Linked DNA regions of Homo sapiens. The protein of the gene in region 2 purifies or fractionates together with the protein of the main gene of each other region. This does not show direct contact. Each region holds a gene or a part of one and is shown on either strand. Other genes may lie near its edges.

Evidence for each region. The genes of interacting proteins can lie anywhere in the genome.
Region 1: the proteins of SLC38A10 (region 2) and XPOT purify together in Homo sapiens (affinity purification with mass spectrometry; one large-scale study listed by BioGRID and IntAct). This does not show direct contact.

The regions. Positions count from the first base shown.
Region 1 is NC_000012.12:64,428,392-64,431,891, reverse strand, and holds part of XPOT (exportin-T), read right to left. Parts: intron 1,844-3,500; coding exon 1,605-1,843; intron 355-1,604; coding exon 69-354; intron 1-68. UniProt on the Homo sapiens protein: Mediates the nuclear export of aminoacylated tRNAs. In the nucleus binds to tRNA and to the GTPase Ran in its active GTP-bound form. Docking of this trimeric complex to the nuclear pore complex (NPC) is mediated through binding to nucleoporins.
Region 2 is NC_000017.11:81,288,808-81,292,307, forward strand, and holds part of SLC38A10 (solute carrier family 38 member 10), read right to left. Parts: intron 1,002-3,500; coding exon 884-1,001; coding exon of another isoform or gene 863-883; intron 1-862. UniProt on the Homo sapiens protein: Facilitates bidirectional transport of amino acids. May act as a glutamate sensor that regulates glutamate-glutamine cycle and mTOR signaling in the brain. The transport mechanism remains to be elucidated.

The sequences.
Region 1 (3,500 bases), on a different chromosome or scaffold from region 2:
GAAACATGTCTGAAGATAAATACATCTGATCTTCAAGAGATTTTCAGAGCTCTGAAAGTTTGCGGTACCTTGAATTTGGCCGTAATCTGGTTGATAAGAGGAATGAACTCCTGGAGATCTTTTGCTTCACAATCTTTGAGCATATGTTCTGAAGCAGATGGAATGAACGGAAGAACTTCTTCCTCCAGGCAAATAATCATTCGATGAAGGAAAGTACGGACTCCACTTCTGAGAATATCCTTTTGTAAGGGACAACTGAGGGCTGGCAAGAATGTCTGTAAACAGTCCAGATAAACTTCGGAACAGCCACATTGTTTCACAGTCTGTTTGTTGCTGAAAGCTTTACTGGTTCGACTATATAAGCAAAAATCAGGCAATCAGATGCAACTTTATTCTTTAAAAGTGTTATGGAGTATTCAAAAGCAATGCACAACAAATTACAAAATTAACAAAACTAAATAACCAGACCTTTATTTTCCACATCACAATTACTTCCATCTTTAGCTAATATGGCTATTTGTAAACTACTGCTTCCAATGATCTTTCCAGAACAAAAGAGCTCAAATTAACTTAAATGAATGACATGTAGTTAATATAATCCTTCTAATGTGAGTCTACCTAAATGTTTTATTAAAATCCTATTGACTGGGCTGGGTATTGTGGCTCATGCTTCTAATTCCAGCACTTTGGGAGGCTAAGGCAGGCAAATCACTTGAGGCCAGGAGTTCAAGACCAGTCTGGACAACATGGTCAAAACCGGTCTTTACTAAAAATAGAAAAATTAGCTGGGTGTGGTAGCACATGCCTGCAATCCCAGCTACTTGGAGGCTGAGGCACAAGAATTGCTTGAGCCTGGGAGGCGGAGGTTGCACTGAGCTGAGATCACAACACTGCACTCCAGCCTGAGTGACAAAGCAAGACTGTGTCTCCCCCACAAAAAAAAGAAAAAAGAAAAAAAAGAGAAAAATCCTACTGACAAAGTGGACAGAAAAGAGAAAATAAATCCACTTATTATGACTAGGCCTGTACTAGGTAACCTGCAAACCACCCATTTAAATTTAGAAAACCATCTTCAGAATTCTTTATACAACCTCTCTAATATCTAGCTCTTGTTCTTAAATATATTATAGAACAATTTAACTTCTAAATTAGCAATCTTTACAACTTTCATGCTGTTGTTTGTCAACAAAAAGTATGGCTAGAGGCGGAAAAAACAGCTGCTTGGGTGATCTTCAGGACACAATACAACTGAAGAGAAACCTCACGCTCTTCTCTTTAAGGTAACCAAGACTAACCAAAGATGTCCCGTCCCAATATATATTTGGTATATTAACACTTCAGCTGATCCTCTTAAACACACAACCCATTTATATCAGAGAAGTCAGAGGAGTTAAAGATTTACAGTTGTCAAGGCAAAAATGTAAATGGTATGTAACCTATCCCCTTCTTCAACCAAATCTAACTGACTGGATTTGGAGGACAAAGATTTAGACAATTCTCTGGATTATCCAACTGTGGAAACACAAATGTGTGTGCCCACCAAACAAGTGGTTCTGTCTGTGTAGATACATGCACTTTATAATTTTAACTGTGATCACACTTACCTTGCAAATCCAACAGCATGGTTAAGACAGTCTGCTAGAGAGGCTTGCCTTTCTTCATCTTGTGCCAGCATCAACTTTTCTAACAGAATTTTAAACTTCTCCATTAGTGGAGTCAACAGATTCCTCATTAAGGCTTGTTTCCTTTCTGCCGGATATTCACTATTAACAATCAGCACTCCAGCTGTCTCATAAATAAAAAGTTGATCATCGCTGCTCAGTAAGGACTGGTGGCCATTCTCCTAGAATGAAATTCAGTCTTATTAAAGCTTTTATTTTTTGAGTTCCCTTCATTTAATGAGAAAAAGTGCATTAGGAACAGGAAATGTAATCTATCACACCAACTCATATGTCAAATACTTATAAAGACAAATTTTCTCCCAGGACCATAGAATGAAAAGAAAACTAAATTAGAGGTCAACAGATCACGGTTCTAATTCCAGCCCTGACAAGACTCTATAAATGATCATGTAAGATAATTATTAAAGTTAGCTTTCTAACTTGTTTTCTTTTGTAAAGATCTTATTTATATAAGATTGTTATGAGGCTAGGCTGCATGTGGTGGTTCATGCCTGTAATCCTAGCACTTTGGGAGGCCGAGGCCGGCAGATCACTTGAGGTCAGGAGTTCGTGACCAGCCTGGTCAACGTGGTGAAACCCTGTCTCTACTAAAAATACAAAAATTAGCTGGGTGTGGTGGCGCACCTGTAGTCCCAGCTACGCGGGAGGCTGAGGCAGGAGAACTGCTTGAACCTGAGAGGTAGAGTTGTAGTGAGTCAAGACCATGCCACTGCACTCCAGCCTGGGTGACAGAGCCAAGACTCTGTCTCAAAAAAAAAAAAAAAAGTACTAGAGTGCTATACTTCTTTTAAATAATTAAGTAACAACACACAGTAAAGCATTATTTTGCATGTGTCTGTAAGGGTGTTTCCAGGAAAGATTAGTCAGTCCAAGTAGACTATGTGGGGAAGACCTGCCCTCAGTGTTGGCGGGCACCATCCAATTGACCAGGGGCTCTGAGAGAACAAATACATAAGGCAAATTGGTCTCTCTCTGAAAGGTGGACAGACTTTTCTTCTGCGGCCTTGAACATCAGAAATTTGACTCTGCAAAAGTACATTACACACAGCATTAACTGTGTGTGTAAACACTGCATGTACACAAGAAAGGTCCTTTCTGTACATCTGCATCTGTGAAACATAAAATTTCTTGTGATCTCAGTTCTTTGGGTGACTGCATATGTTGTAGTGACCCATTGCCGTTTTTTATCAATTTCCTCAAGACTTAGGTTGTCTGTCATGGTTATTTCAGATGAGCGCAGTTATAAAGCAGAGTGGCACACAACTACTAACCATAGTGACATGCACTTACACATTTTGCTTTCTGATTTATGAATACAGTTTGTCTGCTCCTGTTTTACACATGTAACTGTCATTTTTATAACTGTTTATGCTTGCAAAAGCATGTTATTATTGCCTATTTTATTGTGTAAAGTGGCCTATGAAGTGCTGTCATGTTTTTACATGTTTCTCAAATACATTCCCTTTTAAAAATGTAAAGTAATATCTTTCAAATAATTTTTTAAAATTACTTTTTCCAGGATTATATTTTTAAGATTTTGATCTTTTAGAATTGTGGTTTTTAGGATTTCAGGATTTTAACACTTGGGATTATGGCCCAATCCCAACACCAAAATATTCAGATCGACTAGCACTTAATTTTTTTTTTTACCCTAAGCCTGAAATGACAGGGAAAACCTTCGATCTAACAGTAGCAGCTGCTAAGAATGGCTAATACAATTATAGGATTAAACAGAATAATTTAGAAGTTGAATTTTTTAAATTTTTATTTTCTTTTGGTTTTTAAAATTTTTAATATACTTTTCATTTTAACAGCAAG
Region 2 (3,500 bases):
AGAACAGCAAGGCTCTCTGCAGGCAGCTCCGCAGGAAGGCATCTGGTGTCCAGGAGAGACACAGAGAGAGCAGGTCTGCACCAGCACGGTGAGGACGGCTGTCTTGGTCTGAGTTTAGAAGAGGAAGCTTGTGTGGACCTGCATGGGAGCGGGCAGGAGGGCATGGTGACAGGGAGACCTGGCGCCTCATACCCTTCTGTGTCACTCCAATTTTGAAGCATGTGATTATAACAGGTTTTTCTTTTTTTTTCCAGACAGAGTCTCACTCTGGCACCAAGGCTCGAGTGCAGTGGCGTGATCTCAGCTCACTGCAGCCTCCACCTATCGGGTTCAAGAGATTCTCTGGCCTCAGCCTCCTGAGTAGCTAGGATTACAGATGCCTGCCACCATGTCTGGCTAATTTTTTGTATTTCTGGTAGAGATGGGGTTTCACCATGTTGTCCAGGCTCGTCTCGAACTCCTGACCTCAAATAATCCGCCTGCCTCGGCCTGCCAAAGTGCTGGGATTACAGGCACGAGCCACCACGCCCGGCAGGTTTTTTTTTTAACTGCATTTTTTTTTAATTTGATTTTTAATTCTTTTGAGACAGGGTCTCGCTCTGTCACCCAGGCTGGAATACAATGGCGTGATCACAGCTCACTGCCACCTCAGACTCCTAGGCTCAGGTGATCCTCCCACCTCAGCCTCCCAAATAGTAGCTGGGACGACAGGCACGTGCAACCACACCCGGCTCATTTTTTTGCAGCATTACATTTTAAAATAAAAAAAACCCTGCTATCCAAGGAATTCTTGAAGAATCAAGTAGAGTAAATAAATAAATAAATAAATGGAATAAGGCCCCCGCCCCAGGTCCAGAGCCACCTTGTGGAGAGGGCGCCTCACCCAGGCCGGCGTAGGTCCTCCGCTTGCTCAGGCTGGCCGACTTCACCAAGAACATGCACGACTGGTGCGTCATCCATGAGCAGAAGACCAAGAGCAGCGCCCCCAGGACGATGCCGCACTGCAGGGTGGAGACAGGAACACATGTTCACAGCAGCAGGTGCTCCCCAGAGGCCCTCACCCCACACACGCGGCTCATGAGGACCCTCTTCACCCCCAGGCCCCGCTCCATCCCAGTCTCCTGCCGAACGCGACACTTCCTAGCACTGAAAGGGCCATTTCCTTGCTGTGGTGGCCGCGCGCCTTGTCCAGGGATGAAGCTGTATGCGCAGAGCACAGGGGTGCCATCTCCTTCCCAGTCCCCACCTCAAGTCTTCATGGACAGCGGGGTGCTGCCAACTAATACCCCCTTGTTCTCTGCACACACCCTACATGCACCATCTTTAGCCACTTAAGTCCACAGCTACAAGTAATGAACACATTCTGGAAGAGATTAAAAATGCCATTTTCCCCGTTCTCATAAGTTAAATAGACACTTACTGTGTGACCTGGGGATTAACTGCACCCCTAGGTATTCACTTACCAAGAGGAATGAAAACGTGTTCATGAAAAACCTGTATGCCAATGTTTACAGCAGGTTTATCCACAACCCAAAAATGGAAAAACAACCCAAATGTCCTTCAACAAGCGAATGGATACAAACTGTGGTCCATTCGAATAAGGGAATATTAGTCAGCAGGAAAAAGGGATGACTACTGACACCCACCATGACACGGATGGGACTCAAACGCACCATGCTGAGCAGAGGAAGCTGGACTCTGAATGCTACAAACAGTGTCATTCTGTTTACAGGAAACTCAGAAAAGGCAAACTTTTAGGCCAGGGAACAGCTCAGTGTTGCCAGGGGCTGGGGGTGTGGAGATTTGGCTGATGACAAAGGGGCACATGGGGACCCTCTGGGGGATGAAGCTGTGTGTTCTGTTTGACTGTGGTGGTTACACAGCAAGCCCATGACCTGCACCCTAAAAAGAGTCAATCAGCCGGGCACGGTGGCTCACACCTGTAATCCCAGCACTTTGGGAGGCCGAGGTGGGCAGATCACGAGGTCAGGAGATCGAGACCCTCCTGGCCAACATGGTGAAATCCCATCTCTACTAAAAATACAAAAATTAGCTGAGCATGGTGGTGTGTGCCTGTAATCCCAGCTACTTGGGAGGCTGAGGCAGGAGAATCACTTGAACCAGGGAGTCAGAGGTTGCAGTTGAGCCGAGATTGCGCCACTGCACTCCAGCCTGGCGACCGAGCAAGACTCCGCCTCGAGAAAATAAAAAGAGAGTGAATCTTCCTGCATGTCCACTACCTCCATCGAGGTGACACTTAAAACACAAGGACCGCCACACTAGTGCGAGACGTCAGTCACGTGAACCTAGCTGGACGGTGAGGGGGGCGGGGGCGCTGCACTTTCCAGTCTGTTGTTCTGTAGACTTAAAACTGCTCAAACACATAAGTCCGGCTGGGCACACTGGCTCACAACTGTCATCCCAGCACTTTGGGAGGCCGAGGCAGGTGGATCATTTGAGGTCAGGAGTTCGAGACCAGCCTGGCCAACATGGTGAGACCCCCACCTCTACTGAAAACACACACAAAAAATTAGCCAGGCTTGGTGGTGGGCGCCTGTAATCCCAGTTACTTAGGAGGCTGAGGCAGGAGACTTGCTTGAATCTGGGAGGTGGAGGTTGCAGTGAGCTGAGATTGAACCATTGCACCCCAGCCTGGGTGACAGAGTAAGACTCCATCTCAAAAAAAAAAAAAAAAAGTAAGTCTATTAATACCAAAAACTCATGAGATATCACCAAGCACTCATCAGAATGGCTCCAGCGGAAAAGACACGATACCCAATGCTACCGGGGATGCGGGCCGGCATGTGCACCACTGCACCCACATGGCAGCTCCAGAGCGGAGCACACGCACCCTGGGGCCCGGCCACTCCACACAGGCACGCACCCAGCAGAAACCACCCCCTGCCAACGCCTGTCCAACTCCTCAGGGCATCACAAGAGCTCCCAATAGGAGACACCGTAAATGCCTCACAGGGGTAAACTACACACAGACACGCATGGCGGTGCAGCGGACACCAGAACGCAAGCCAGACACTCGCACTAGACACCTGCACAGCAGGACCCACCCACCTCAGTTCAAACCAGGCAGCACCACCGTGGCACACTAGGGGTCAGCAGTGTGCCCCGGGTAGGCCGCCACGGCCACAGAGTACGCTCCTTAATTTGGGAGCTAGTCACACGGGTTTGCTCGTCATATGAAAATTCATCAACAGCACATCTAAAGAAGTGTGTACACATTTTTGTATGTCAAACTTCAATGTTTATTATATATATAATCTATATAGATCTATATCTATATCTATCTAGATATAGATATAGATATATATTTTTGTTTGTTTGAGACAGAGTCTCACTCTGTTGCCCAGGCTGGAGTGCAGTGGCGCGATCTTGGCTCACTGCAAGCTCCACTCCCGGGTTCAAGCGATTCTCTTGCCTCAGACTCCCTAGTAGCTGGGACTACAGGCGCCTGACATCGCGCACAGCTAATTTCTGTATTTTTA